2 separate regions of the Homo sapiens genome follow, and region 2 is linked to region 1. The links come from fine-mapping of genetic effects on gene expression. Tissue or cell type: whole blood. Region 1 holds a variant in brackets; the other region holds the start of a gene. All regions are shown on one strand. Distances are between the middles of the regions. Region 1 has its middle 27 kb from the start of TMCC3. Region 2 holds the start of TMCC3 (transmembrane and coiled-coil domain family 3).

What was found.
Region 2: TMCC3 starts here. The variant in region 1 is fine-mapped to the expression of TMCC3 in whole blood (TOPMed, PIP above 0.99).

What each region holds. Positions count from the first base shown.
Region 1 is chr12:94,670,131-94,685,527 of GRCh38, forward strand. No RefSeq gene overlaps it. Among named protein-coding and RNA genes, the nearest start is that of TMCC3, 27 kb to the left of the region's middle. RefSeq lists enhancers at 5,840-5,949, 6,540-6,649, 13,126-13,215. The variant G/A (reference allele first, on the strand shown) is at 6,027.
Region 2 is chr12:94,641,982-94,657,378 of GRCh38, forward strand. TMCC3 (transmembrane and coiled-coil domain family 3) reads right to left here and starts at 8,576. Exons shown (of 4, transcript NM_020698.4): 1 at 8,372-8,576. The coding sequence starts at 8,449. LOC105369914 (a long non-coding RNA gene) reads left to right here and starts at 4,457. Exons shown (of 2, transcript XR_945225.4): 1 at 4,457-7,622; 2 at 8,924-9,021. RefSeq lists silencers at 7,820-7,949, 8,040-8,509, 8,530-8,699 and an enhancer at 8,028-8,743.

The DNA.
Region 1 (15,397 bases):
GGAGGTCAAAATCCCAAAACTGGGCTTTGATGGGGAAAAAATGTTCCAAAGACGTCATACACCTAGAACATGTTTCACACACGTGCTAGATCATCTCTCCAGAGAGTTTATTTCCTGCTTGAAAGTGGTTTCACCTGTTTTTCTAGGTCTCCTTCTTGGATTCTCCTGTTTGATGCTGCGGCGATCTCATAACAGAAATGTGATATTGCTATAACTATTTGTATTACTTTGCTCAGGCTGCCATAGCAAAATACCACAGACTCGGGGGCTTAAACAACAGAAGTTTATTTTCTCACAGTTCCAGAGGCTAGAAGTCTAAGACCAAGGTGCCAGCAGGGTTGGTTTCTCTGAGGCCTCTCCCTTTGGTTTGCAGACAGCTGCCTTCTTGCTGTGTCCTCACATGGTCATCCCTGGTGTCTCTCAGTGTGTCCAGGTTTCCACTTCTTCGGTTTTTTTTGTTTTGTTTTGTTTTGTTTTGTTTTTTGAGAAGGAGTCTCACTCTGTGACCCAGGCTGGAGTGCAGTGGCACAACCTTGGCTCACTGCAACCTCCGCCTCCCGGGTTCAAGCGATTCTCGTGCCTCAGCCTCCTGAGTAGCTCGGATTACAGGCTCATGCCACCACGCCCGGCTAATTTTTGTATTTTTAGTAGAGATGGGTTTTCACCATGTTGCCCAGGCTGGTCTGGAACTCTTAACCTCAGGTGATCCGCCCAGGTGGATTACAGAGGCGTGAGCCACCATGCCTGGCTGGTTTCCTCCTCTTACAGGGACATCAGATAGATCAGAACCCAGCCTAATGGCGTTGCTCTAACTTCATTACCTCTTTAAGGGTCCTATCTCCAAATGCAGTCACATTCTGAAGTACTAGGGTCTAGGGCTTCAACATACCAATGTTACAGGGGCACAGTTCAGTCCCTGACACCACTCATGCGATGATGAACTTGGCAAATGTATGGAAGCAGCTGTGCCTGGAGATAAGGGGGAATAGCAGCTGGGGAATGAGAGAGTAGGGATCTTGAAACCTACAAAGAAACTCCACATTCCTGGGAAAATAAAGCCCTGATTTCCTTTGTTGAAATCTGCTCATTTTGATTAGGTACTTTCTTAAACCCCTACTTTAATTTTGCATAGAGATAGAGCTACATAAAAATTTCCATCCAAAGAGATAACTAAAGAGGTAATGACCCATAGAATGTCTTTAACAGCTCTTCCTAGTATGCAGTCTTCTTTTCTTAAGAACAGCTACAATTCTCAATATGCCATTTCTCTGCATAAAGTATATGTGCACAGCCTGTGATATATGAATAGAAAGGGAGAGTGTGGGGAGAGGAACAGAGGAGATGAGGGAACAAAGGAAGGCAGTGAATGGAGATTTTTAAAGAAAGAAGTTCAGTGTGAAAAATACACACAAACTCCTGAGAGGTAGGAATGTACTGCAAAGATGCTTCTCTGAATGAGAAGCCAGGGCAGGCCCAACCAAGTGAATTTCTGGTATGAAAAGAGGTACCAGGAAGGAAAAAGAAGTATAAAGTTTTTAATAAGACCAAGTGATTCAGTTTTGAAATGAGATATAATCTAACTTAAAGGACTTGGGAGACAAGTGAGAACGTGGAGTTATCAGTGGAGACAGTACCATAGCAGCTGGGGGCAGAAAGTTCTGCCTTTGTCTGTGGGTTTTGCAGGTCAAATAAACAGTATCCCCAAAGATTCAAACCTGAGGCTTGCAAAGGACTCTCCAGTTCCAGATTCTGGTGTTAAAAGTCTGTATCATGCCTAAATAAATATATTTAAAGAGCTGTGGCCAAAGATGTGGTTTTATAATTACATATTGATTTATATTGGATTTCTTGGTTGGCTGCAGAGTTTGGAATCTTTCCAGCATTACTTTCTTGCCAATTTCTAGGTAGCTTATAGCAATTTCAAAGTACCTCCAATTATACATTTTCAACAGATGGGATTATTAAATGCTTAGTGCAAACAATGATCCATAGATGTGTTACCACCCACCAGTAGACAAAGCCGAGCTTCTCTCTGCTCCACTCTCATTCCAATAAATATTTACATCCTTCCATTTACTCATTTCAAGACTGTAGGATATGGAATTTCATTGCTCTTTTAAGGTGAGTGCAAGAAATTGTTAATGGTTTCTGGATTTTCCAATTAACTTGCTCTCAGAAGAATTTATCTTTAGTATAAATAACAGAATGGTTCATGGTCTGTAGATATTTTCATCTACACATCCAAGTATGGTATCAATTTTTAAGTAGGAAACTTTTTTTTTTTAAGCATTTATACTTTTAAAGCCTAGACTGTAGAACTTTTCAGAACAAGGTGTGTGGTTCAGCCTTCTTTTTCAGATGAGGAAACTTGAGGCACAGATATGTAAAATGGCTTGCTACTTGGTAGCAGAGCTGAAGGAATAGGCAGTAGAAGAGGGAGAAGAGACTCTGCAGTTCGTGTGGGCACCTGCTGGGTGGCCAGGTTCTCATCTTTGTGGCTTCACAAACACACACCTTGCAGCCAGCATCCTTGTCACAAACTCAGGCTAGCAAGGCTGAGACGGAGACAGGTTAGGACAGTGGCCCGCTGTCATTCACAGTAAGTGATTTAAACCCAAGTCTGTCTGATACCCCAGACCAACCCTTTTCCATTTCCCTACACTGTTCCCTAAACAGAACCAAGTTATATTATTGAGTTTAAAACTGATATTTATAATGGCATTAGATAAAGTTAGATTCAATAGCTTCTCCAAACCCTAGGTTTATTTTCTAGTATTCAATCTCTGAATTGTTATTGGTTTCTGTTTTGGCAGCATAACTGACATTTACTTAAGAAAATATGAATTAATACATATTTAGGTGTAAATCAAGTGAAAGCCTAGCTGTTTGACCTTAATTAATCATTAATGGAAAAAATTCCCTCATCCTTTGAGCCTTTCTATTTTGAATGCAATTATTTAAATGAAAATGTAGGGCAGTCCTCTTTACCATGTCTTACCCGAATAGGAAATTCACGGAGTGTATCTCATACGTCCATCCCCAGTGTTCACGGTGAGAGACATGAAAAGGTACAAGAATCAGTCAGCTAGTAAGTGATTCAAACTCAAGACCACCTGACACCCGAAACCAAGCCTTTTTATTATCTAACGTTTCCCAGGTAAAGGAAGAAATACATACAAGGATGTATAGAATGCACCTTTAAGACATTATCAAGCATATTCAGATGTAAAAGCTTCTTAGAACCTTGTGCACTGGTATTCAATTTCTGTGAAGCTATTCGTTAGAAATAGTTTTACTTAGCAGAGAGAAAAAAATTATAGTTATTTTATATAGTTAGGTAATTAATTACTCACCCACAGCTAAACTCGCTGCCAAACACAGGTGGACCACAGGGCTATGAGGCCTAATGCTTCACACCTATTAACCCAAAATGCAGTGGACACAAAGGGCATCCTTAACCCCCATATGGTAATTCTGAACTGCACGAGCAATTAAGTAAGAGTGTGACCTATTACCACTGACATAAAAACAGCTCAAAGGCCATGTACTATTTACTATTCATAGGAGTCCCGTGGCATACATTGGTTTTCAAAAGACAGCAGGTGACATTCATCAGCAGACTTTCTGTGTCCCTCTGCTCACACTTACAGCACAATTTTAGAGTCTCAGGTTAAGGCTGTTTTTCCTTAACAATACTCAATTTTCTTCTGAATCACTGAGAAAATCTAAGTCTACCGTGGGGTCATCCTCAGTAGACTGGAAATGGGGAAGAGAATGTGAGCTTCTTTTGTTTTTATATCCTCCTGTCCATAATTAGGCAATATTTTTAAAAGAGAAAAACAAAAACGTTCCAAGCACAATAACCTTGATGCCGTTCTGTAATCCAGAGTGGCATACTGGCAAACTGGGTTATTATTTTTTTTTAATTTCAGATAACCTTCTCTCAATTGTCAAGGGTATATTCAGCAAATCAAATCGACTTCCCTCAGCATCATAAATCCCATTTGTATCCTAGTAGAAACACACATTTCCTGAGAAAGGGAGCTGGGTCTTAAAAAAGGAAGTTGAAGTTTTTAAGCTGGAGATAAGGCATTTCAAAAGGGAAGAAACTTTTGGCAGGACTCGAGTGCATCCTGCACTAATGGAAATTGGAAACCCATCCTTCATTTCATGAACATTACTATACAAAATGTAAAACATATTGGTACCACAGCAACCAACTCTGCATAATGTACTTGCAGCTTCAAATGGCAACCCTGGGGGAGATAAAAGTTGATTTTTTTTTTTTGCTATCATGAAATGTTGGAATTTCTTAATTCCACAGATATTAGCAAGTGTATATTTCATGCCAGGAAATGTTCTTGGCTCCAAGGATATAGCAGTGAACACAATTAGGTTGCTGGCTTCATGGAGTTATATTTGGAGGTGGGAAATTTTAAAAATTACTGTATAATATAGCAGATTAGAATATATAGGGATGGTATAATATATATTATGGTATATTAGTATATATATTTATCATTATTACATGTGTCACATATAGAAACATAGTATATAATACCATATTATGCAATATAACAAAATATGTCAGGTAGATATAGATCATATCAGATGCTAGTAAATTTTAGAAAGCAGAGAAAAGGGGATAGATGAGTGTTGCATTTCTGAATAATATGTTTTGGGAAGTTCTCATGGATAGGCTGGGACACCTAACTAGAGAACTGAAGGAAGTGAGGGGGTGATACATGTAGAATATCTAGAAAAAGACCATTCTAGGCAAAAGGACCAGCAAGTGCAAAAGCTCCAAGGAAGGGGAGCACTTGATCCATTTGAGGAACAACAGCAAGAAAACCAGCATGGGTGGAGCAGAGTGAGCCGAGCAGGAGAGCGGGGAGGGTGGAGATGAGGTCAGAGAAGCAGCCTGGGGTTAGAAGAACAGCAGCGCAGATCCTGTGGCATTTTCTGGCAGAGTAAGGACTTTTTATGGGGGGGCCAGGGTGGAAGCCGGGAGGCTGATCAGGAGGCTATTGAAACAGTTCAACGTTTCTCTGCATCTGTCCCAGACCGTTCCCTTCCCATCTTGCTTTCTCTCCCAGACCACTGCTGGCTTTTTTTTTTTTTTTTTTTTTTTTAGATGGAGTCCCACTCTGTTGCCCAGGTTGGAGTGCAGTGGAGCAATCTCGCCTCACTGCAACTTCTGCCTCCCAGGTTCAAGCGACTGATTCTCCTGCCTCAGCCTCCCAAGTAGCTGGGACTACAGGCGCATGCCACGACACCTAATTTTTGTTTTTTTGTTTTTTGTTTTTTTTGAGATGGAGTTTCGCTCTTGTAGCCCAGGCTGGATTGCAATGGCACGATCTCGGCTCACTGCAACCTCCGCCTCCCGGGTTCAAGCGATTCTCCTGCCTCAGCCTCCCGAGTAACTGGGATTACAGGCTTGCGCCACCATGCCCAGCTAATTTTTGTATTTTTAGTAGGGACGGGGTTTCACCATGTTGGCCAGGCTAGCCTCGAACTCCTGACCTCAGGCGATCCACCCGCCTCAGCCTCCCAAAGTGTAATTTTTGTATTTTCAATAGAGACAAGGTTTCACTATGTTGGCCAGACTGGTCTTGAACTCCTGACCTCGGACGATCCGCCCACCTCAGCCTCCCAAAGTGCTGGGATTACAGGCGTGAGCCACCTGCCCGGCCATGGAGCCTCTTGCTCCTATGTCTCTTCTGACCTCCAGCCTTACTCACCCATCCATCCAGTTCATCTACACATGGATGGCTCAGTATGTTCAAGTGTGCCCGCCTTCCTCCATGCCCCTCTGGCTCCTCTAGGATCCCACCTTTCAGCAAATGGCACCACCACTTAGTTGCTTAAGACTTCTCTTGGGAGTGTCCCTCCTTTAACACCTCACATCCAGGGACTCACATCCAGAGTCCTGTTGCCGCAGACGCATTTCATTTCCTTTCATGATAACACAGAGGAGTAGAAGGGGCCAAAGGCATAGGAGGAAAACAAGAAAATACAGTGTCACC[G/A]GAACCAGGGGAAGTGTGTTGATAAAAGCAGTGGTTAGCATGTACTTCTCACTGTAGCAGACACTATGCTCACCACTTCCCACAAACTATGTCATTTAGACCTCGCTACAATCTGAGGAGGAAGGTGCTACGCCCATTTTGCAAATAATTTAGAGAAGTAAATTTCCCAAGGTCACAGTGTGTACTAAATCCCCTAAGAGAAATAAATTGAGTCTGAAAAACTCAAGTCCACTGAACTGAGTCATGTGGAGACCACCGGTGACCTTAACAAAAACCTGGCCAGTGTCCAGCCGGAAGAAGAGTGAGAAACAAGAGGGAGATGAGAAAATAAGGACAGGAAGTTAGCCAACTCTCTCCAGGGTTGGCCTGCAAAGCAGACAAGGAGGAAGATAAGGCTATAGTTGAAGGGAGGGCAGAGGGGCTGGGCACGGTGGCTCACGCCTGTAATCCCAACACTTTGGGAGGCTGAGGTGGGTGGATAACTTGAGGCCAGGAGTTCCAGACCAGCCTGGCCCACATGGCGAAAGCTTGTCTCAAAAATAAAAACTAAAAAAGAGAGTGCTGGGGGAGTGTCTAGGGAAGGTTTTATTTTAGGTGACAACAAAGTAATTTAAATTTCTAAAACTCAACCCCTTTGCAGAGTGTGGGTTAGCATGTCTATGTGAGCAATCAGCACAGAGAAGGTATTTGTTTTCTCTGCTTCCTGCTCCAAGGAAATTCAGATTTTGCTTATGAGTTTGGTTTAAAAAATCATTGGCTATGCATAAAATTTGCGTCCCATATCCTAGAAGATGGGAAAAGCTATAGAACAGAAGGTGTATAACTGGGTCAACAAAATAAACAAAAAGAGGATCTACTCTGGTTTTCTTGGGAAGCTGAAAAATCAGTGCTTTAGAAAAAACCAGTCAAGCCAGACTATTCTGTCACAATGTGGTGGAGAAACCCCAACACTGAACCCAAAAGCAGATGACCTAGTGGGCTGCTCTTTCCGGCCAGCCACTGTCTAGCTTTGTCATCTTGTATAAGTCACTCAATTCAGGGTCAGCATCCTCTGTGGATCAAGGAGCTAATATTTATTATGCCACACTTGGTTCTGGGCAGAATCAAACAACTGAATCAGCCAGAAGATTGACAGAGGATGCATGATTTCAAACAACTGAAATCAGCCAGTAAAAACGCTTTATACAAATGCAAGGTATTCCCAATATCTATCATAATTGAAGGTAAGCATTAAAAGATACTTATGGGCTAGGTACAATGGCTCACACCTGTAATCCCAGCACTTTGGGAGGCCGAGGCAGATCGCCTGAGCCCAGGAGTTCGATACCAGCCTGGGCAACATGGTGAAACCCCATCTCTACAAAATATACAAAAACTAGCCAGGCATGGTGGTGTGCACCTGTAGTCCCAGCTGCTCGGGAGACTGGGGTGGGGGGATCACCTGAGCCTGGGAGGTTGAGGCTGCAGTGAGCCGTGATGGCACCCCTACACTCCAGCCTGGGCAACAGGGGAGACTCTGTCTCAAAAAAAGAAAGAAGATATTGTACACAGTCTGGAAGCAAGCTGTTTGGATACATGTACATTCACCAACTGATTCAAGATTTTTAAAAAATTCAGTGATAGCTTAACAATGCCAGATATATAACAACAAACACCTGCATATTTACTTTTCATTACAGCTGGTGCTGTTGAAGCTGATTTCCAGTGAATCAGGTTAAGCCAGGCCTAAACTTGTGGCCATGACTGGTCTGTGAAAATGCTCAAAGTGTGACATACTTTCAGTTTGCTCTGGATCTCACAGCATACCAATTCAGTACACAGGTCCTGCCACAGAGGTGTTTCTGGCCTGTGATTTAATAAGCAAAGAAAAACCAGTACAGCCAGTCTAATTATTAGAGCAGCCAAGCTTTCAGACTCTCTTAAATACTTCCAACATCAGGCCTCCCTCAGGCAGGGCAAGATTACACATGACTCCAGCCCGGTACCAATTCCCTAACTGTCCATTTCCTATGGAGACATGGATATGGCCTTCTCTAATTAGAGGGACAAAGACAGAAGAGAACCATTATTAGGACTTTACTTTTTATCCCGTTTTAGTTCTAAAACATTCAAGTCCTGCCCTTCACTGATCACTATTACAAATATTAAAATGGGGGTAGGAGTGGTGGATTAAGTGCCACAGAGACCGAATGCATCAATTGTTTCACTTATGGAACATTCTGGGCTCTGAGAACCTCGGAGTAGGAGTGAATCAATCGTACATCCAAGCAGATAACAGCTCAAATCACCAGCTCAGCACAATTCTTCTGGGCACCCTCTTCTCTATCTGCAAAAAGAGACTGGCTTTCCTTCCTCCTCTTGCCCTCCCTCCTGCCCCCACCCCACCCCCGCCGCGCCCTAGGCCTGGAGTCTAGGGCTGCCCAATGACAGGAACACCCAAATCAGCACTGTCTTCTGGGCTGCGTTGGCTTCTGTGGTTGTAGCTAGGAATGGCCAGCAGGGCGGGGGTTGGGTGGGGTGGGATGGGGGCCGTGGGGGTGGCTGCACAAGGAATCATACACCTTTGGTAATACACTTACCGTTTACAAAAAGTTGAGAGTCCACATAACCAGGAATGTGTAATTCATGCAGCTTCCTAAAACTGCCAGGGAATTATTCTTGCCTCCAAGTCAGCCCTGGCTAGGATCGTAAGTATTATAAATGCAAAAAGAATAAAAAAAAGACAGTGCAATTCTTATTTAGTGGGTATTCAGCTCTCAAACCTGAGGGATGGACTAGGAGATTAACATGATGCTCACCAGCCTCTGAGACCTTCCACAAACGCCCTCTGACCAGTCTTTCCCACCTACCCTCCTGCACTCCCGCACCCTCTGCCCTGCAGTCATTCTGCCTCACTCACCGCGCCCTGCACGTGCCTTGCCTCTCCCTTTGTGCTTTTGCAGGTTATGGTTCCGCTGCTGCATAGAATAATCCCTCCTCTCTCACAGAAATTCCTCCCATCTGGGCCCAGATCAAATGCTCCTCCTCAAAGAAGACTTCTCTGATTGCTAGGAGCAGTATCTCCTTCTTCTTGCCACAAATAATATTTTGTTTACAGCAATAATAAGAGCTACTTATTGAACACATACTATGGGATGGGAATCCTATGAAGCACTTGATACATTTTATTTCATTTAATCCTACTACTATTCCTAGTTATAGGTGAGAAAGCCATGATTGAGAAAGGTTAAGTACTATCTCTAAAAGGGCAGTGGCGACACTGGACTTGGTCAGGCAGTTGGACACCAGAGCTCCCACACTCTACTACACGTTGCCTTATACTGTAATGATTTGTGCAAGGGTCCCATCTGCTCTGTGAATTTCTGAGGTCATATATCTTCAGATATCCCATTATATGAACTCATGGCTTGGCCTAAGTGGTCACTGGAATTGGAGCAAAAGTGCACTTAGAGACAGGTTGCTATGGCTGATTCTTCCAGGTATGCTATTTTATCTTTAACCCAGCTCTGACCTTTAGGATGGGTCAAGAGCAGCAACTAAAATGGCCTCACAAAGTCAAGGATCCAAGACCCAGGAAGCAGGAGAAATCTGACCCCTGGAATGCTCTGGAAGCACTGAGGGGCCCCACAGGATATGGGCACCATTGTGTCCTAATTTGGATAACAGGTACCTGAGACATACAAGCCTGTCTCTGTGCATATCAGCTAGATCTCTTAGAATGGTGAGTCCCGGAGCCAGGGGCAGGGTAGCTTTCTTTTCCAGTATATAATAAATGCACACTTGTTGCAGTCAATGTTTCTTCAGACTCGGTTTTCAGTCTCCCAGAGAATAATAAATTCTTGTTGAGAGGATAAGACAGCATGGCTCAAAGGTTAAAAGCAAATGGGCTCAATGTTAAACAGAATCAGTCTGAATGAGTCCAACTTTGCCCCAGTATTTGTGATCTAGGACACGATACTTAATGTCTGTACTTCAGTGTCCTCGTCTGATAATAGAGATAATATCACCACCCATTCATTCATAAGGTGACTAGGAGGACAGAGTGAGATAATGCATGTAAAGTGCTCACTATACTCCACTCAAAAACGGTTAGCTCTTATTATTTAACAATTGCTCTTTTCACTAATGCTAATTATTGTTGTTGGTTAGTCAATTTATAGCTAATGAGAGTACATTTTCCATCTGAAAAATTCTTTACTAAAATTCACTGGTTAGTGTTACTCTTTTCTGCTCTACAGAGCTAGCAGTGAATATAGAGATCAACAATTCTGAACATAAAGAATGAGAAGATATGCCAGGCATGGTGGCTCACACCTATAATCCCAGCACTTTGGGAGGCTGAGGTGGGCGGATTGCCTGAGGTCAGGAGTTCAAGACCAGCCTGACCAACATGGTGAAACCCTAAGTCTCTACTAAACCCTTAGTCTCTACTAAAAATACAAAAATCAGCTGCGCATGGTGGCAGGCACCTGTAATCCCAGCTACTTGGGAGGCTGAGACAGGAGAATCACTTGAACCCAGGAGGCAGAGGTTGCAGTGAGCCGAGATGCCGAGATTGTGCCACTGTACTCCAGCCTGGGCAACAAGAGCGAAAATCCATCTCAAAAAAAAAAAAAAGAAAGAAAGAATGAGAAGATATATAGTGATATGGTTTGGCTGTGTCCCCACCCAAATCTCCTCTTAAATTCCTATGTGCTGTGGGAGGGACCTGTGGGAGATAACTGAATCATGGGGGCAGGTCTTTCCCATGCTGTGCTTGTGATAGTAAATCTCACGAGATTTGATGATTATTACAAGGGGGAGTTTTCCTGCACAAGCTCTTTCTTCCTGCTGCCCTCTCTGTAAGATGTGACTTGCTCCTCCCTGTCTTCCGCCATGATTGTGAGGCCTCCCCAGCCATGTGGAACTATAAGTCCAATTAAACCTCTTTGTTTTGTAAATTGCCCAGTCTCGGGTATGTCTTTATCAGCAGCATGAAAACAGACTAATATATATAGCCTGGGCAACATGGTGAGACTCTGTCTCTACAAAATATAAATAGCCAGGTGTGGTGGTGCATGTCTGTGGTCCCAGCTACTTGAGAGGCTGAAGTGGGAGGATCGCTTGAACCCTGGATGTCAAGGCTGCAGTGAGCCATGTCTGCACCACTGCACTCCAACCTGGGTGACAGAGTAAGACCATGTCTCAAAAAAAAAAAAAAAAAGATATAAACATTAGAGGTACCACCTAACAATTAAAGCTGTTCAAAATATGGTGGCCTCTGAGAAAAATGAGCTGCCCCCTTTCCCTACCCAGCAGAAACTGCCTCCTATGGCCATTACATTTGGTTCAATTTAAGACCCTGATATGGTGGGGATTTGTGTCCCTGCCCAAATCTCATGTCATCCCCAGTGTTGGAAGAGGGGCCTGGTGGGAGGTGATAGGATCATGGGGGCAGTTTCTTGTGAATGGTTTAGCACCATCTTCCTGGTGCTGTTCTCATGAGAGAGAGTGAGTTATTACTAGAGCTGGTTGTTTACAAGTGTGGAGCACTGCCCCCTCTCTCAATCCTGCTCCTACCATGTACGATGCCTGCTCCTGCTTTGCCTTTCGCCAGGAATGAATGCTCCCTGAGACCTCCCCAAAAGCAGATGTCGCTATGCTTCCTGTACAGCCTGCAGAACTGTGAGCCAACTAAACCTCTTGTCTTGATAAATTACCCAGTTTCAGGTATTTCTTTATAGCAGTGCAAGAATGAATTAATACAGAACCCAATGGTCTTACTTCTTCTAATATCCTATTTTGCCCCAGCCACTTATGGTGATGATTCTCAAACTTTGGTGGACGTAAGAGTCACTTAGTGTGTTTAACAAATACAGATTCTTGTGTCTATTTGGGATTATGATTTAATTTTATTTACTTTTTAGAGACAGGGTCTTACTCTGCTGCTCAGACTGGTGTGCCAAGGCCTGATCATAGCTGACTGCAACTTGAACTCCTGGGCTCAAACGACCCTCCAGCCTTCCCTCTTAAGTAGCTGGGACCACCGGTGTAAGCCCAACTGGGATTATGATTTAATAAAGAACATCCCAGGTGGTTTCTGATACCAGTGGTCCTGTGAACCAATTCTCAAAAACAGGGTCAGTAACTGACAACTTAGAAATATTTTTCCGTGTAGGCTGGGCGCCGTGGCTCACACCTGTAATCCCAAGCACTTTGGGAGGTCAAGGCAGGAAGAACGCTTGAGGCCAGGAGTTCAAGACCAGCCTGGCCAACATGGTGAAATCTCGTCTCTACTAAAAATACAAAAATTAGCTGGCTGTGGTAGCATGTGCCTGCAGTCCTAGCTACTCAGGAGGCTAAGGCTTAAGAATCGCTTGAACCCGGGAGGCAGAGGTCACAGTGAGCCGAGGTCGTGCCACTGCACTCCAGCCTGGGTGACAAAGTGAGACTCCATCTCACAGAAAAAAGAAAGAAAGAAAGAAAGAGAAAAAAGAAATATTTATCCGTGTAAATTTATTTCCTGTAACAGAAAAAGATGGAAAAACTTTTAATTCTCCAAATCTGGGTCTGCATTTTTTGAAAATAATGTTCCCTGAAGCCTAATCCTTGGATTCGATAATAATGAGTTTGTCTATTAGTTATCACTTATTCTGGTGAGTAATTTCTAAAGTCTCGTTTTACTTCCTTTTTTTTTTTTTTTTGAGGCAGAGTCTTGCTTTGTCGCCCAGGCTGGAGTGCAGTGGTGTGATCTCGGCTCACTGCACACTCCACCTTCTGGGTTCACACCATTCTCCTGCCTCAGCCTTGAGTGGCTGGGACTACAGGCGCCCACCACCACGCCCGGCTAAATTTTTGTATTTTTAGTAGAGACGGGGTTTCACCGTGTTAGCCAGGATGGTCTCGATCTCCTGACCTCCTGATCTGCCCACCTTGGCCTCCCAAAGTGCTGGGATTACAGGCGTGAGCCACTGCACCCGGCTAGTCTCATTTTACTTCTCATTGCTGATGAAGCACCAGTTACTTTATTGTTTCTTCCCAAGGCTGTGTACTGGTAATAATTTTCTTTAAGAGAGGCCAGAATCTTGACATGGTCCTGATTCTGGGGCCAGGAAGCCTCAGTTTTGCTTTATTACAAGCTCTGAGGCTTCTTTTCAAATGGCTACAGTCAGGCTGACATTGGCAATGATGAATATGATGCAGAAACAGCTGCAGTCTCTGAAGCAGAAGGTGCTCACAAACCTGCTTTCTAAAATTCACTAATATCTGATATGACACACATCCATCCCTCAAGGGTCTAGAATACAGGATGTCAGGAGAGAATGAGGTTGTAAATATAGAATCTGCTCCAGCACTGGCCAGTCTGAACATTTCTTTCCCTTGGCTCCAGCATAGCATTAAAGACCAATAAAACCACAGACTCTAAAGGCAGAGACTTCCTGAGTTTCAAATCCCCAGCTCCAATACTTACTACTGTGTGAACCTGAGCAAGTTACTTAACTTCTGTGTGCCTCAAGTTTTAAGTTTTTCATCTATAAAGTGCTGTAGGGGGAAAAATATATTTTCTTCTATCCATCTTAGGTGTCTTGGCTAGTGCTCCTGTAATAAAAGCCAAATTAATAAGAGAGAAGCACACAAATTTATTTAATATGTTTTACATGACACAGCAGCCTTCATAAAGAGAGGAAACCATAGAGAAGCAATTAAACCTGAGTGTTTTTCATAGTAGGTTGATGAAGAGGATGGTGGTGGAGAAATATGATAGGGCAAAGGGTGCAAGGTGAGTGCAGTGACCTGGAGGAACTTAGCAAGGCCTGTTTGGATTCTTCTCTGTGTCCCATCGTCTTCAGAGATAAGGATGCTCCTTCCCTTTGAATATAGGGAAAGCAACTCTCACATGAGTGTTTCATGACCCTCTTCAAGGGAAGCTCAGAAAATCTGTCCTAGATTTTATGATGTGCTTCAGAAGGGAAGGGTAGAGGAAAGGTCAGAGAGACCTTCCTGTGTCTGCATTTTCTCATATTCCTTCAGATTAAAATATGCAGTATGCCAAACTGCCATATATTGGGGTAGTGTGTTCTGAACCCCATCAATGGGATGTTACAAGAATAGAATTGGCACATAGTGCTATGTGAGCATTTATTAGTATAGGATGGTCATATGGCCCAAGCTATCCATGACACTTCATTCCGGTACTTTTGCTGAATGAGATGCTTCTGCTGGAGTTGATAAATCGGTAAATATTTAAGCTGAGAACTGCCAGGGGCCACCTGTGGAGAAAGCCTTCCTGAGAGTGAAGCTACTGCAGAGGAACGAGGGCTGAGAGGTGGAGACAGTGTAGGATTTAATGCGAATGCTTAAGACCTGGGTCCAGTCATGCCTGGATATCTAGTGTGGACTTTTCAGTGACACGGGCTGTGAACTTTCTTTTCTCACTTGAGTTGGCTTGGGTTGGTTTCTATTGTCAGAGGCATTTGAACCAGAGCGACTCCATCTTGAATAGGGGCTGGGTAAAATGAGGCTGAGACCTGCTGGGCTGCATTCCCAGGAGGTTAGGAATTCTAAGTCACAGGATGAGATAGGAGGTCGGCACAATTTACAGGTCACACAGACCCGGCTGATAAGAGGTTGTGGTAAAGAAGCCGGCCAAAATTCACCAAAACCAAGAAGGCCATGAAAGTGACCTCTGGTTGTCCTCACTGTTCATTATACACTAATTATAATGCATCAGCATGCTAAAGACACTCCTACCAGTGCCATGAGTTTACAGATGCCATGGAATGTTAGCAAGTTACTCTATATGGCCTAAATGGGGAGGAACCCTCAGTTCCTGAAACTGCTCACCCCTTTCCTGGAAAATTCATGAATAATCCACCCCTTGTTTAGCATATAATCAAAAAATAACTATACATATACTCAGTGGAACAGCCCATGCCACTGCTCTGCCTATGGAGTAGCCATTCTTTTATTCCTTTTCTTTCTGATAAACTTGGTTTCACTCCATGGACTTACCCCAAATTCTTTCTTGCACAAGGTCCAAGAATCCTCTCTTGGGGGTCTGGATTGGGACCCCTTTCCAGTAACATTATCACCTTCCAACAAAAGAATTCTGACCTAGCTTTATTGAGATATAATTCGCATACCATCCAGTTCACCTATTTAAAATGTACAATGCAGTGGTTTTTACCACATTCACAGAGCTGTGCAACCATCACCACAATTGTTGGATTGTTGATCTAAAGATCCTCAGAGATGGCTCAGTAGGCCTGGGATGTGGAATGTGGACAGGCATGTGTGATTCTGCTTCCAAAGTCACCACGATTTTGTTTTGTTTCGTTTTTGAGACAGGGTCTCATTCTGTTTTCCAAGCTAGAGTGCAGTGGCTCACTGCA
Region 2 (15,397 bases), 28 kb before region 1:
ACCCCTCTTTTCCCCAGTGCCCCCCAAAAACCTGTAAATAAATTCAGAAGAAGAATGGCCTAACATCGTGTCATTCAAATTCACTTTTTTAACCTAGAAAAGTCACAAAAACTTAAATTTGTTCATACCTACTGAAAATAATTTTAAATTCTCATTCCACCCCTATAACTTAGCAATTAATTTGGTATTTAAAAATTATGTAAAGCAATCCTTTTTAAAGACAGAAGATGGTATAATGGTTAGTCCCAATCAGTCTGTATTAATTACATAATTTTACTGGTTACAGTCTGGCTGGTGTCATTTTCTGCTTCTGCAAATGGAATGGTCTGGAGTTAATAATGTCTAAATTCCCTTCCAGTTCTACCATGGTAAAACCTTGAGTCTAACTTTCCAACCCTCTGCCTTCGTACCTTTAATTCAGTCAAGCCAGGGTTCCACAGGGAGTTCTGGTGTGGACACCGGGCTATGTTTTCTAGTTGCTTTAAACTGCCCTTTGTAATGTTTTTAGTTGGCACAGTCTCCTCGAATGCCTTTAAGACCTGAGGAAGATACAGGTTTACAATCAGCCATTTAAAATGTGGCTTCCTCAGGGGACCGGCACTAAATGGGATGCATTTCAGGAAGCAATCCTTGAAAAGATCTGGTCTCTGGAGAGAACTCAAAGTGTTGGAAATCACACCCACGGTCTCTGCTCAATTGCAGCTCCTGCAATGGCCAGACAGCTACACCACTGTTACATACTGTTATTATTCTTCCTCTCCCATCTGAACATTAACCGAGCATTTAGCAGGTGCTGGCACTCAACAGTGCTTTACACGTACTACACCGTTTAATTCTCACAACAGTCCTCCAAGGGAAGTACTGTGACAACCCTTGTAAAAACCTAACTTTGGTACCATGCGGCAGGGTACACTATAGAAAGTCAACCGGGCCGGGCGCAGTGCCTCATGCCTGTAATCCCAGCACTTTGGGAGGCCGAGGCAGGCGGATCACGAGGTCAGGAGATCGAGACCATCCTGGCCAACATAGTGAAACCCCGTCTCTACTAAAATACAAAAAAATCAGCTGGGAGTGGTGGCGTGCACCTGTAGTCCCAGCTACTCGGGAGGCTGAGACAGGGGAATCACTTGAACCTGAGCAGCGGAGGTTGCAGTGAGCCGAGATTGCACCACTGCACTCCAGCCTGGTGAAAGAGCAAGACTCTGTCTAAAAAAAAAAGAAAGTCAACCGAGGCACATAACTCCAAGACTGGCACTCTTAACCACTCCAGTGCACTCCCCCAAAGTGTGATGTTCTGCAGGGGACACAAGAAGGCATGGTTTAATATTACAAGAGCCTTCACAGAAAGATCACCAGGTAGGTGACTGATGACATGGCTCAAAAGAAGGTGTGAACCCACAGGCCAGTCATGAGGATCTACTGAGGAGACACGTTTGCAGGCATGTCTTGAACTCCATGTTCACAAGGAAGCACCACCTTCACCTTGCTATTCAACAGTCCATCCTCAGGAGACCAAACATCAGGCAAAAACACGGTTCTTTAATGATCTTAAATCATGAGCTTATTTGACAGCCTTTAAGACTTCAAACTACTAGCAAAATTCTCATATCCTAGGCATTAAAGTTCATGAACTATCATTCTGTATCATTCATTCACATGTTTACTGGGAATATATGACTACGTGCAAAAGACTGGCAATGTGCATGTCATAAGAATTAGAGCACACAATTAGGGTAAGTGCCCAGCAGATGCTGTACACATCCTTCCCCAGGCACCCAACTAGTTTAGAAAGACTGGGCTGCTCTCCAGTGTTCGCCACGGAGGCAGACAGGGAAGTGGTAAAGAATCAAGCTCTGGAGTTGAGACATACACAGGTTCAAACCCTAGCTCTACCATAGTTTCCTAATAGCCACAAGATCTTAGAGAAACTAATAATCTGTCTGGGCCTCAGCCTCCCCATCTGTAAAATGGAAAAGTGGGATATTGTGGAAGACCAAGGAGATCATGTATTTGAAGTGCTTCATGTTGCCTGGTGTACAGTAAGCACTCAGTACACATTAACTATTATTGTGACTGCATTCTTCCTTTCACCTATGTTCTTTTTACCTCCTTACAGAGGAATAATCCACAAATATACTATGGTTCCTTTCAGGCAGCACCCCTCCCAAGTCGACGGAAGCAGTTGGCCTATGCACAAATCATATATCCTGATGTTCTCTTTCGAAGGAATGAAAAGTCCTCATTCTGATTCACAGTACAGTGATTCATGGTTCTCTTCCTCTTCTCTTGTCACCCTCCTCCCCTCCACTGAAAACATGAAAACACAATTAAGAAACCACAGGGCTGAAAGCTGCAGACTCTTCTAAGTCAAGCTGCGGGCATTTTCCAAGTAGGACTAGGTTGATTTCTGACCTTAGCAGCAGTCCTGGAGATGCCGGCAGAGGGTCTGAAGCAAAATACACCCTGAGATCCAACTTGGTAGCAGCTGTCTTGGTGATCTCTACAGCGGATGTGACAGGCGGGTGAGCTGGTGGTGGCCGGCAGTTCCTTCTCCTCTAAAGGAAAAGCCTGCAACAAAGTACAGCTCGAAAAACACACACCGCATCACTTTGCTCATCCTAAATGTAAGAAAAACCTGGCTTGAGACACTCACCATTATTCATTCTCTTTAAGAGGCTCTTTAGAACAAAACAAATCACCGGTGAAAACGATATCTGTGTACTACTCAACTTACCACTTCACCGGGTCAGTGTCCTCCAGGACAGAGGTCAGTTTCCACTCCCCCTATTTCCTGCCCAGGGAGTAAGCATGTGATCATCAACTTACTACATCACTGCCCAACCAGTTCCACTGTGAGAAGGGCTACAGCATCCTCTTCTTCACTGCCTTTGGTCATTACTCATCATGTAATTGTAGATGGATTTCCAAACCACAGAACACTTGAAGATATACTACAGGTGGCACTCACGCTTGACACAAGTTTTACTTCAGATGTTAGAGATTTCTGCATGTATTATCATCATGTTCTCCTGTACAAGACAGGGGTATTGTCCGGAACCACAAGAATAAATGAGATACACCCACCAGATATTAAGTTTCCACAGAGACCAGACTGTTTCATTTACCATTGTATTCCTGATGCCTAGATCAGCAGCCAGCACACAGAAGGTGCTCAGTAAGTATTTTTTGAATAAACGAAGCATCTTGCTCTCAAAGTGCCAATGTCTATAGTTTATAAATACATGTAAGCATTAAACATATAAACAGTCAATGTCATGAGAAACATGACGCAAGGAGGCACAAAATGCTAGCAATGCTAGAAAAGTCTATACTTTTCACAAAATTAGCAGCCTTTCCGTTTCTAAGCTCACAAATCCCTCTTTCATATAGTACAGGTCCCCTATTCAAAATGCTTGGAACTAGAAGTGTTTCAGATTTCAGATTTTGGAATTTGTTTTGTTTAGTTTTGTTTCGGAGATGGAGTCTCCCTCTGTTGCCCAGGCTGGAGTGCAATGGCACAATCCTGGCTCACTGCAACCTCTGCCTCCCAGGTTCAAGCGATTCTCCTGCCTCAGCCTCCCTAGTAGCTGGGATTACAGGCACCTGCCACCATGCCGAGCTAATTTTTTTGTATTTTTAGTAGAGACCGGATTTTACCATGTTGGCCAAGCTGGTCTCAAACTCCTGAACTCAAGTGATCTACCCACCTGGCTTCCCAAAGTGTTAGAATTACAGGCATGAGCCACCATGCCCGGCCTAGGAATCTTTGTATTATACTTACTGGTTGAGCATTCCAAATAGAAATATCTGAAATCAGAAATGCTCCTGTAAGCATTTCCTTTGAGCGTCATGTTGACGCTCAAAAAGTTTTGGATTTTGGCTTTTGGATTGAGATGCTCGGCCTATAGTAAAAGTGGTTAACATCTATTGATTTCTTATTGTGCACCCGGCATGGAGTTAAACATTTTATAGACATTACTGAATTTATTCCTCAAAACACCCCTATTATGTAGAAGTAGGAACTAAGGCTTAGAGTGATTACAGGATCCAAGATTACACTGGTAGCAAACAGCACTGGTACAAGATCTGTATTCTGGGGACTATCCTAATGCAAATGGTTCTGTAGGGAAAATAATATGGTCCTTGCATGCAGGATGGAACAGAAGTTGGTGAAGGTCATAAGTGACTAAGGTGGGGGATGATTGGGAGATATGGAAGAAACCAATTCCAGAGAAATGTCAGAGAAAGGTGCGGTGGTATTGCTAATAGGTTAGAGAGATGGGGGAGGGCAGGCACTCAAGATGACTAGCAGTTCTGATTAGTAGTGGCACCAACAAAATAGAAAAAAATTATTAACCTGACATATAGACAAATACAGCTTTTTCACCCAGTGAGAGAACATAAATTTAAAAAAATTTTTTTAAATAGCTAATATTTGAAAGCACACACCTTTTTTTTTTTTTTTTTTTTTTTTGAGAGGAAGTCTCACTCTTGTCCCCCAGGCTGGAGTGCAATGGCACGATCTCAGCTCTCTGCAATCTCCGCCTCCCGGGTTCAAGAGATTCTCCTGCCTCAGCCTTCCGAGTAGCTGGGATTACAGGCACCTGCCACCATGCCTGGTTAATTTTTGTATTTTTAGTAGAGACAGGGTTTCAACATGTTGGCCAGGTTGGTCTTGAACTCCTGACCTCAGGTGATCCACCTGCCTCGGCCTCCCAAAGTCCTGGGATTACAGGCGTGAGCCACCGTGCCTGGCTTTTTTTTTTTTTTTTAAAAAACAAATACTTTCTTATTTAAGACACACAATCACTCCCAGAAGAGTGGAGTATTACCTCTTTTACAGATGGGAAACTGGAGGCTCAGAAAGGCTATTTAGGACCTTGCCCCAGTGGTCACCCAGTTAAGAAGCTCGAAGAGCCAGAATACAACCCACGTAGGTCCAGAGCCCCAGCTGTCCACCACTATACTCAAGTGGCTGGAGAGGGCATTTTAGAACACTTAAAATGAAAACCAACTAAAAGAAAACCTAATTCACACATCATTAATAAAAGCCAGTTACTGTATAGAAAGCAGACGGCCTGTATTCTTAAAAAGATGATAGGCTTTAACTATCTAGGGCATGAAAAAAAAGTAGGAGTCTAATTATGGATGCTCTTTCTTCTAAAGTAGAGAGATATGTGCATCAAGTTAACAAGCACCATTTCTGAGTTTTACAAAGATGAAGTTTTAAAATGTGAATGATCCTGACTTGTCAGCTTAGCAACAATCACAGAATTCATTACTTACATTTTCACTAAGGGGGGAGGGGTTATCTAGGTCAGTCCACCTAGATGTAAAAATAGATTTCTGCAATGTTGAAAGAGTACACTGCCTCATTATTATTCCAGTCTCAAAGGCTGAAATAAGCCCAGCAAGACAGACCATGTAGTTTCCCTGTTATCTCAACAGGTATTGATTTTGAATTTAAAAAATGACCATTCAGTAACTAAGAACTTCATCTCATGGAGTCTTTGCCCACTTCTAGGCAGAAACTCCATATCCCTGAAAGATTAGTCGACTCTTCCCATGACCCCCTAGTTCTCATTGGCATTTTTAGGGGAGCTAATTCACCAAATGAGTTCATAAAAGGGTTCTTTTTAAATCCTATACTAGTTTCCTCCCAAGGAGATGGTGACATCAAGAAATTAGCACTCGATGTCTTCCTCTCGCATCACATACGTTCTGGGTGTCAGGAAAACATATCTTTACAGCTGCATCCAAGTGAGTTCCACAATACAGGAGCTACGATCATTTAAATGGATGAATACTTTCTGCACAGTAAAATTGTTGCTTTCCCTTCATTACAACAGACTTATTGTAGCCTCAGGACAGACTTGAAATTACATCAACCCTGCTTGAGAAAAGTTATTATTATGAGTTTACAAAAATTTCACTAGTTCTACCTATTCCTCGCTGTCTCAACAATAAAAAACCTAAAAGCAGATAGCTGAGAAGTTTCAACTGGGACCTCAAGAAGTCCAGCATCACTGTAGTAGAATTTGTGATTACGGTCTGCTGAAGTTCTAGCCCTTCTCTGATTTCCTCTCTTCACTAGATCTGACTGGCCCAATGTGCTAATTTACGATAATCCGCACATATAATGTCTAACTCAGTTTTAATACACAGCTTATTTAAAAATCGGGTATCTCCATGCTAACAATACAAGGCAGCAGGTACAATAACATTGTCAGTAGAATTGTTTTATTTATTTATTTATTTATTTATTTATTTATTTAAAGACAGAGTCTCGCTCTGTGCCCAGGCTGACGCGATCTCGGTTCACTGCAACCTCCGCCTCCCGGGTTCAAGTGATTCTCCGCCTCACCCTCCCGAGTAGCTGGGATTACAGGCGCCCACCACCACGCCCGGCTAATTTTTGTATTTTTAGTAGAGACAGGGTTTCACCATCTCGGCCAGGCTGGTCTTGAACTCCTGACCTGGTGATCCACCTATCTCGGCCTCTCAAAGTGGTGGGATTACAGGCATGAGCCACCGCCCCCGGCCCGTCAGCAGAATTTTAAAGAAAATCAAGAAATCACATAAGGTTTTGACCTTTTAATAGAAAAGACTGGCGTAGACAGGCAACAGTGGCAGATGCGGCAGAAACACTCTGCAGTTACCTTACACAATTGCTTTACCACATTCCACCTAAGCAGTTGAGGCACAAACTTTATCACCACCATTTTACAGGTTATGAAGAGTGAGTTTTGTAAAGTTGCATGAGTTTTGCCAAACCACTTAAATGAGTTGACAATGAGCCATCCATCCCGCTAAGATTACTAATCTTGTTTACACAAAGAAGATCACAGTTGTGACAAGAAAAAACAAGCTTTCACATTTCAAGTCTGCAATATTAACTTTACAGAATCCTCTCAATTACAAATGCATTCGAAGATGATCTCCTTTTCTTCATAGTTCTGTTAACTAGCATTACAGCTATCCAAGAAGAAATGTCTACCTGTGGGTAAGCACATTTCTTCAATGTTTATTCCAAATGGAGTTTCTGGTTATTTTCACAGCAAACTGTTACGAAACTTATACACAAAGTGCAAAAACAAGAGAATTGTAAGATTGAGATGAGTGCATGAGGTATTATTCCACCAAATATATTCAATCTGTAAAAACTCAAATCATCCTTCCAAAATGATTAACAGATGCTAAAGGAAAAAGGGAAAGCGGGCAAATAAACCAGAGACTCATTGCTTCACTTCTGGGGCAATCGATTACTACTTCAAATTATGAGTGAAGACCAAAATCCTGCACAAAGGGCCGCGACACAACCCCGTCACTATTGCTACTATTTCCATCCAGTTGGTCTCTCGATCTTGGAAGTGGCAGGCCAGAATCTGAGCCCGGCTCTCCCTCCGTGAACTTTACACAGAGGCTGACACCCAAATCCCCAGTTCTCGGACAAGCGAGTAAGTAGTTGGCGGAGCAAAGAACAACTCCAGGTGCCTCCTGCCAGAACAGATGCCAGCGTGGAGGAGGTGCTTTGTTAAATGGCACTTCAATCAGCCCTGGGGAGAACGGGTTACAGAGCCTCACATCCAGCCTCGACGATTCAACAGCCCGGGAGGGCAAAGGTATTCACCGGGGAGGGCGAAGGCTTCCTCTCCCAGGACAGACCCGCGCTTGGGCTGCGGCCTCCGTCTTTATTTTGAAGCCCTACAGGGCTCGTCTCTGCAGCAGGCTCAGAATGAGCTATTTTCGCCCACAGCCAAAATCAGCAACAGCAAATTACACTGCAAACAATGGCGAGGGCGCCTGCTCGGCTCGGCTCGAAACTCCGGAGAGGCAGCGCAAAGATTCTGACTTTTCACTTGGGCAGAGCCCGTCCGCCGCCTCCCCGCGCTCCGGCTGCGCACCGCGCTCGGGTTCCGGCCACACGCCCCGAGGACAGGGAGACAGGGCGGCCGCCGGGACGTTCGGCGGGGAGGGCACCGTCACACCCAGGGCGAGACCCCGGAGACCTGGAGACGCGGGGCCGCGGGTGGCCGGGTGGCGGGATTCCCTCGCGGAGCGGCGGGCGCTCCCTGGCGGGGAGGACAGCAGAGCGCGGGCCGTCGGGGAACCGGGCGTCCCGCATAGCGCGCGGGGACCTGGGCGCCGTGAGGGGCAGGCGGACCTGGGATCCCAGAACCGCAGCCTGGGCTCCGACGCCCCCGACGCCCACCCTTTTAGCTCGGAGGATCGGGGAGGCACGGACCTCCGGCGGCAGCGGAGGGCGGCGGCGAAACGCCGGGGGCGCGTGGGTTAGCACTGAGCCGCCGCCCCAGCCCGCCTCGCCCCCGGGCCCGCGCGCACCCGCCGCCCCCCAGCCCGCTGCGCTCACCCGGCTCTTGCAGCGGTGGTGCCGGCCGGGGTACGAGTAGGTCCGGTCCACGGTGAGCGCCGTGTCGCTGCCCGGCATCTCCGCGCTCCGGCCGCGAACTTTCCCGTCTTCTGGGGCTGCCGCGCCGCGAGCCACCGGCTGTGCTCGGGATCACCCTGGGAGCCGCGGGCGAGGGGGCGGCGCGGCTGCTGCAGCTGTTGCCTCTGGTGCCAACACCCGCGCGGCCGCCCTGCGCCGCCGCCGCCGCGGGGTGGGGGAGGCGGGGCAGGAGGCGAGAGTCTCCTCCCCCTTCCCTTCTCCCCGCCTCTCCCGCGCCCCGCAGCCGCCTGGACCCCCCACCCACCCCCGACCCGGGAGGCAATGTCTTCGCCTCCCTCCCTGGCTGAAAGTTGATTCCATCCCCTCCCACACAGCCCTCTTTCTCCCCAAAAGATAAGCGACATCCACACTACACTATCTGTTGACTTATTTTATATATAAAAGGTGACTGTTACTGCAAGAAGTTGACACTTGCCTTAAATGCCTCTTTTTATGTTATTCTCCATTCAACAGGCACTTACTGGGCAGCTGCCATGTACCAGACGCTGGACTAGAGACCAGAGATTTAAAGTAAAAAAATGAAATAAAATAAAAACTCCCCCCGACCATGATTGCCCTGAGCATAGAGCATACTTCCACTTAAACTAAGATCCTACTGTGTTGTGTATTTTAATTTTGCATATCTGGCTCACCTTTATGTTTCTTTCTTTTTTTTTTTTTTTTGAGACTGAGTCTCGCTCTGTCACCCAGGCTGGAGTGCAGTGGCGCAATCTCGGCTCACTGCAAGCTCCGCCTCCCGGGTTCACGCCATTCTCCTGCCTCAGCCTCCCAAGTAGCTGGGACTACAGGCGCCTGCCACCACACCCAGCTAAATTTTTTTGTATTTTTAGTAGAGACGGGATTTCACCATGTTAGCCAGGATGGTCTCGATCTCCCGACCTCGTGATCCACCTGCCCTAGCCTCCCAAAGTGCTGGGATTACAGGCGTGAGCCACTGTGCCCAGCTTACCTTTATGTTTTAAGCTACTTGGAAGTCAGGATATCTTTTCATTTTAGTATTCCCCATTCCCAGTCATCAGTCCCTGCCCACAAGGAATTTGGAGTTTAGAAGAGGAAGGACCATTGGTGAACAATTTAAATATCAGTAACCCCAAACAAAATTCAAAACACCTGTTCTGGCTCTGTAGGGTGTACAGTGGGAGACTGGGCTGAAATATTTAAAGTGCAGCTGTTCCAGAGAGGACCTGGAGCCCAGTGTGACCAGTCCAGGGGGAGGGAAGGATTTCCCTCATAGGGTTCAAAGGGGACGGTAGAGCAGGCTGAAGAAAACTTTGGAGCCCCTAAAATCAGAGGTACATTTGGGAAAACCTCAAGTCATCAGTTTTGGGGAGTGTCCTCAGGAACAGGAAGACATGATGGAAAAGAAGGCAGAGACCATGCAGAATCTTCGTTCAAGGGTAAGAAGTTCAGCCTTATTCTGTGGGAACTGGGTAGCTGTTGGAAATTCTTGAACAGGGAAATGATAGCATGGGAATGGAAGTTTAAGGAGAAGGTATATCTGACATCAGGGTGAAGCAGCGATTGAAGATGGGCAAAACACACTGGCTTCTTAGAAGGCCACTGTAAAGACAGAATAGCCTAATTATCCTTCAGAAGGAGACTAAGTAAATAAATGATGGTACATCATCCAATAGAATATTAGGTAACTGGAATAGAAATGAGGCAGCCCTCTATGAATAGCTTTGGAAGCAAATCTAACATACATGGTTCAGTGGAAAAAAAGCAATGTGCAGGATAATATATATGGCATTCCACCATTTATGTAAAAACAATATATGTTATGTGCTTCTACATGCACGACATATATCTGGGAGGATAAATAAGAAACTAGGGAAACAGACAAGAAATTGATGCCAAGAGAGGGGAACCAGGTAGCTAGAAGGCAGAGATGGAGAGAGATCTAATTTTCACTGTGTATACTTTTGAAACTTGAATGTTTATACTGTGGGCATATATTAACTATTCAGAAAGTAAAATTTTTTAAAAAATGTTTTTTAGAGATAGGGTATCTGTTGCCCAGGCTGGGGTGCAGTGGCACAATCATAGCTCACTGCAGCCTCAAATTCTTGGTCTCAAGGGATCCTCCCACTTCAGTTTCCCAAGTAGCTAGAACTACAGGTGTGTGCCACCATTTCTGGCTAATTTTAAAAATATATTTTTTTGTAGAGAAAGGGTTAAAACTAACTTAAGAAGAAATTGAAAGTCCCATGTAGTCCTTAAGCCATTCAAAAAATTAAATCAACACTTTTAAAAATACCCATCTACCACTACCCCAACACACAACTATACTAGACCCAGAGAGTTTTTCAGGTAAGTTCTTTGAAAGAAGAGAAATACCAAACGCTGGGGTGTGTGTGTGTGTGTGTGTGTGTGTGTGTGTGTGTTGGAGGGAGATTTTAGCTAGGGTGGCTAGAGAAGTCCTCCATGATAAGGTGACCTTGAGCAGAGACTTGGGAAATGAGGAAGCCAGAAGTATAGACATTGAAAATTTCCAGCAGACAAACAGAAAGTCAAGGGCCCTGAACATTTCGGGAGTGTTCAAGGAAGAGCAAGGAGGCCAGTGTTCACTGGAAAGAGATGAGGTCAGAGACATTTCAGAGGGCCAGATCATATATGGACTTTCATTCTATTTTAAGAACTTTAATTTTAGGCAGGGCGTGGTGGCTCACGCCTGTAATCCCAGCACTTCAGGAGGCTGAGGTGGGCCGATCACCTGAGGTCAGCAGTTCAAGATCAGCCTGACCAACATGGAGAAAATCTGTTTCTACCAAAAATACAAAATTAGCCGGACATGGTGGCGCATGCCTGTAATCCCAGCTACTCAGGAGTCTGAGACAGGAGAATCGCTTGAACTCAGGAGGCAGAGGTTGTAGTGAGCCAAGATCATGCCATTGCACTCCAGCCTGGGCAACAAAAGCAAAACTCTGACTCAAAGAAAAAAAAAAAAGAAAAGAAAGAACTTTAATTTTGGGGAATATGGGAAGATTTGGAAATTTTTGAGCAAAGGAGTGGCATGATCTACCTTTTCACTTGGATGAAAATAAAATTGATCTCTACCTCACAGCATAAACAAAAACCAATACCAGATAAAGGAAAAATAAAGAAAAAAAATTAGCTGGACATGGTGGCTTGCACCTGTAATCCCAGCTGTTCAGGAGGCTGAAGCAAGAGGTTCACTTGAGGCCAGGAATTCAGCCTGGGCAACAGAGCAAGACCTGTCTCTAAAAAAATTAAAAATTAAAAAAAAAAAACAGATTAAAGACTTAAAGTGGAAAAAACACAACTTAAAATTGTCAGAAGAAAATGAAAGAATATCATTATTATCATCTCAAGTAAAAAAAAAAACAAGACACAAAAAGCATAAACCACAAAGGTTTGACATTAAAAAAATTAAACTTCTGCTTATGAAAATAAACAATAAAGTAAAAAAATAAGCCACAGACCAAACTCCAGCTAAAAAAAAAAATCAATATGGACAAATTTCACAAACAATACTGAGAAACAAAAAAAGCAAGCCACAAAAAATTACTTGCAGTAAGATTCATGTAGGCTGTGTGGTAGCTCATGTCTATAATCCCAGCACTTTAGGAGGCTGAGGTGGGAGGATCACTTGAGCCCAGGAGTTCGAGACCAGCCTGGGCAATATAGTGAGACCTTGTCTCCACAAAAAAAAAAAAAAAAAGATTCATGTAAAGTTTTTGTTTGGTTGGTTTTTTTGTTTGTTTGTTTTTGGTTTTGAGACAGAGTCTCACTCTGTCGCCCAGGCTGGAGTGCAGTGGCACGATCACAGCTCACTACAACCTCTGGCTCCCAAGTTAAAGTGATTCTCATGCCTCGGCCTCCTGAGTATCTGGATTGCAGGTGTGCACCACCATGCCCGGCTAATTTTTGTGTTTTTAGTAGACATGGGGTTTCACCATGTTGGCCAGGCTGGTCTTGAACTCCTTGCCTCAAGTTCAAGTGATCCACCCGCCTCACCCTCCCAAAGTGCTGGATTGCAGGCGTGAGCCACCACGCCCAGCCTTCCTGTAAAGTTTAAGAAAAGCAAGAGGATAATAAACACAAATTTCAGGACAGTATCTCTGGTGGGGAGATGAAGAAGGCTTCAATAGAAAAGGGGTACACAATTATAAATATATAATGCTCTTTAACAAATGACTGTTGGTACACTGGATGTACATTCATTCATACATACACACAATAGTGAAGAATAATTTAAAATTTTAAAGGTAACAGAGTCTCAAAGGAACAGATATGGTGATATCCTTAATTCTGGAATTCAAATCACCAGTTAGGGGTACCTTCTCAAATAAATAAACATAATAGCACTTTACGTGTGAATAAACTCAGAGAGGCCCTGACAAACCAGGGTTGGGCTTTGCTTGGGGGTACCAACAGGCATCTACTTTCCATTTCTATTACTGTCTTGATGTTTCTTAGAATTCCATCCTGGAATGCTGACCCTCAATGAGAAGGATAAATTAAAACTTTATTAGGCTCATTTAAATGTCAATTAACAAAGGATGTTCTTTTTTAGATCATTTAAATTTATTTCATAAGCTAGTTGCCCAAAAGCTGCTCTGCTGGGCACTCATACAAAATTATTTTTTAAAAATATACAAATTAAATAGCAGAAGAGCAAGCTCCCCAGAACAGAAAGAAAACAAGCAGTGCTGATCACCATCTGGGTCTCCTTTTGGGAGGCAGAACCCAAGGGGAAAATAGACCACATCCCCTCCTTTGGACGCAATGCCAATGCCTAGGGTTTTGTCAGCCCTGGAGAGAGAGAGAGAGGGAGAGCGCAGGTGCAAATTCCTCCTGTCAATGTAAGAATTCTGTGCTTTTGATACCTCCAAGAGCCTCTCTCTGCAGAAAGTATGGAAAATATCGCACTGTTAAAATAACAAATGCAGTCAGAACAATAAGAAATACAAAGGTTCATACCTAAGGTGTGAAATAAGAATTTACTTGCAAACTATAAGGAAGGAGCACAACAAGACAGCAGATGCTAAAAGCACCAAAGAAGAGACCAGGTCATTTGAGCTGTAATAGTTTAAAGTTTGGAGTGAAAGGCCTATGGAAAGAGGTAGGACTACACTTGACTTTTGTAGTGCGTGTTTGTTGTTTCAGCCTGCCCAGGATCCCACCCCTTATTCTGAAGACAGTACCTAGGTTTTCTATTGGGACCTACCCTACTCCTACTTTTAATCCAAATGGCTTAGATAAGGTGGACCATTCCCATCCTTGGATCTAGAGAGTGGCATGTCATCCAGCCTTGGCCAGTCAGAGTCACTGTGGCTTGTGCAGGGATGGGCACATGAGCTAATCAGAGCAGATGAGAGTCATCCCCAGACTTTTGTCAGAACTGCTGGGAAAGCCTATGCCCTTCCAGTGGGCATTGCTAAGCTGGTACAATGCAAGCCTGATGCTGTAGTGGACATCCTTCCACCATATAAAGACAGCCTCCCTGGGAAAGCAGAGCCATGAAACGGAGAAAGACTTCTTACTAAATCCTTAGAGCACTAGATCCAGCATTTTCCATCTGCTATCGCTGCATGACAAACCACCTTAAAATGCTTTGGCTTGGCCAGGTGCAGTGGCTCACGCCTGTAATCCCAGCACTTTGTGAGGCAGAGGTGAGTGGATCACCTGAGGTCAGGAGTTCGAGACCAGCCTGACCAACATGGTGAAACCCCATCTCTACTAAAAATACAAAAATTAGCTGGGAGTGGTAATGGGCACCTGTAATCCCAGCTACTCAGGAGGCTGAGGCAGGAGAATTGCTTGAACCCGGGAGGCGGAGGTTGCAGTGAGCCAAGATCACGCCACTGTACTCTAGCCTGGATGACAGAGCGAGACTCCATCTCAAAAAAAAAAAAAAAAAAGGTGTTGGCTTACAACAATAACTACCTCTCATTAGCTCATGATTCTGCAATCTGGGCAGGCCTCCAAGGGAGGTGAGGTGGCTTTTCTCTGTTCCATGTGGCACTGGGGGGGGGGGGGTAGGGTGTCCAAGATGGCTTCATTCATATGAGTGACATTATTATATATATATATACATTGGTTTTCACCCATGGTTCCTGGCTTATAATTACCAATGCCCCTGTAATAGTCTCTTGTCATGATTTTGGGGCACTTTAGATCCCAGAAGCCAGCCTCAGAAGCCTTATCCTACCCTTGTTCCAGCTGCTCTTTTCTCTCCTGAAGGAAGGAATCTTCCCCCGCCTTTCTGTCATGCAGCTGGCCATGAAGAAATTCTCTGACCTACCTTGTCTGACTGTAGGACATAAGGTTCATTTTAGAAGGGGTCCTGCTCCATACCCTGGAGGAAAGAATGCTGCACAGAGAAGCCAAGAAGAATCTGAACAGACAGGCCTTGCTGGGTCTCGCCACTCAGTCTCTTAGTACTAGATCATATACCCTTTTGTCCAGTCACATTTCTACATGGTTGTCAATCATGCCCACCCAGTGACGTCTCCATAAAAGGCCGAAGAGTACAGGGTTCAGGGGGCTTCTGGATAGCTGGACATCTATGGAGGGTGGTGTACTCAGGGAAGACACAGAAGCCCTGCGCTCCTTCCCCTACCTCGTCCCATGCATCTCTTCATCTGTATCCTTTCTGATATCCTTTATACTAAACCGGTAAATGTAAAATATAAGGTTCCCTGAGTTCTGTGTGCTGCTCTAGCAAATTAATCAAACCCAAAGAGGGGGTCATGGGAACCCCAACATGAAGCCGGTTGGCCCGAAGTTCTGAAGGCCTGGGCTTGTGACTGGCATTTGAAGGGCAGTCTTGGGGACTCTGCCTTCAAACTGTGGGGTCTGACGCTATCTCCAGGTAGAGGTGGAGGACACCCAGCTGGTGTCCAGAACTGATTGCTTGCTTGGTGTGTGGGGAAACCCCTCTCCCATATTTGGTCACAGAAG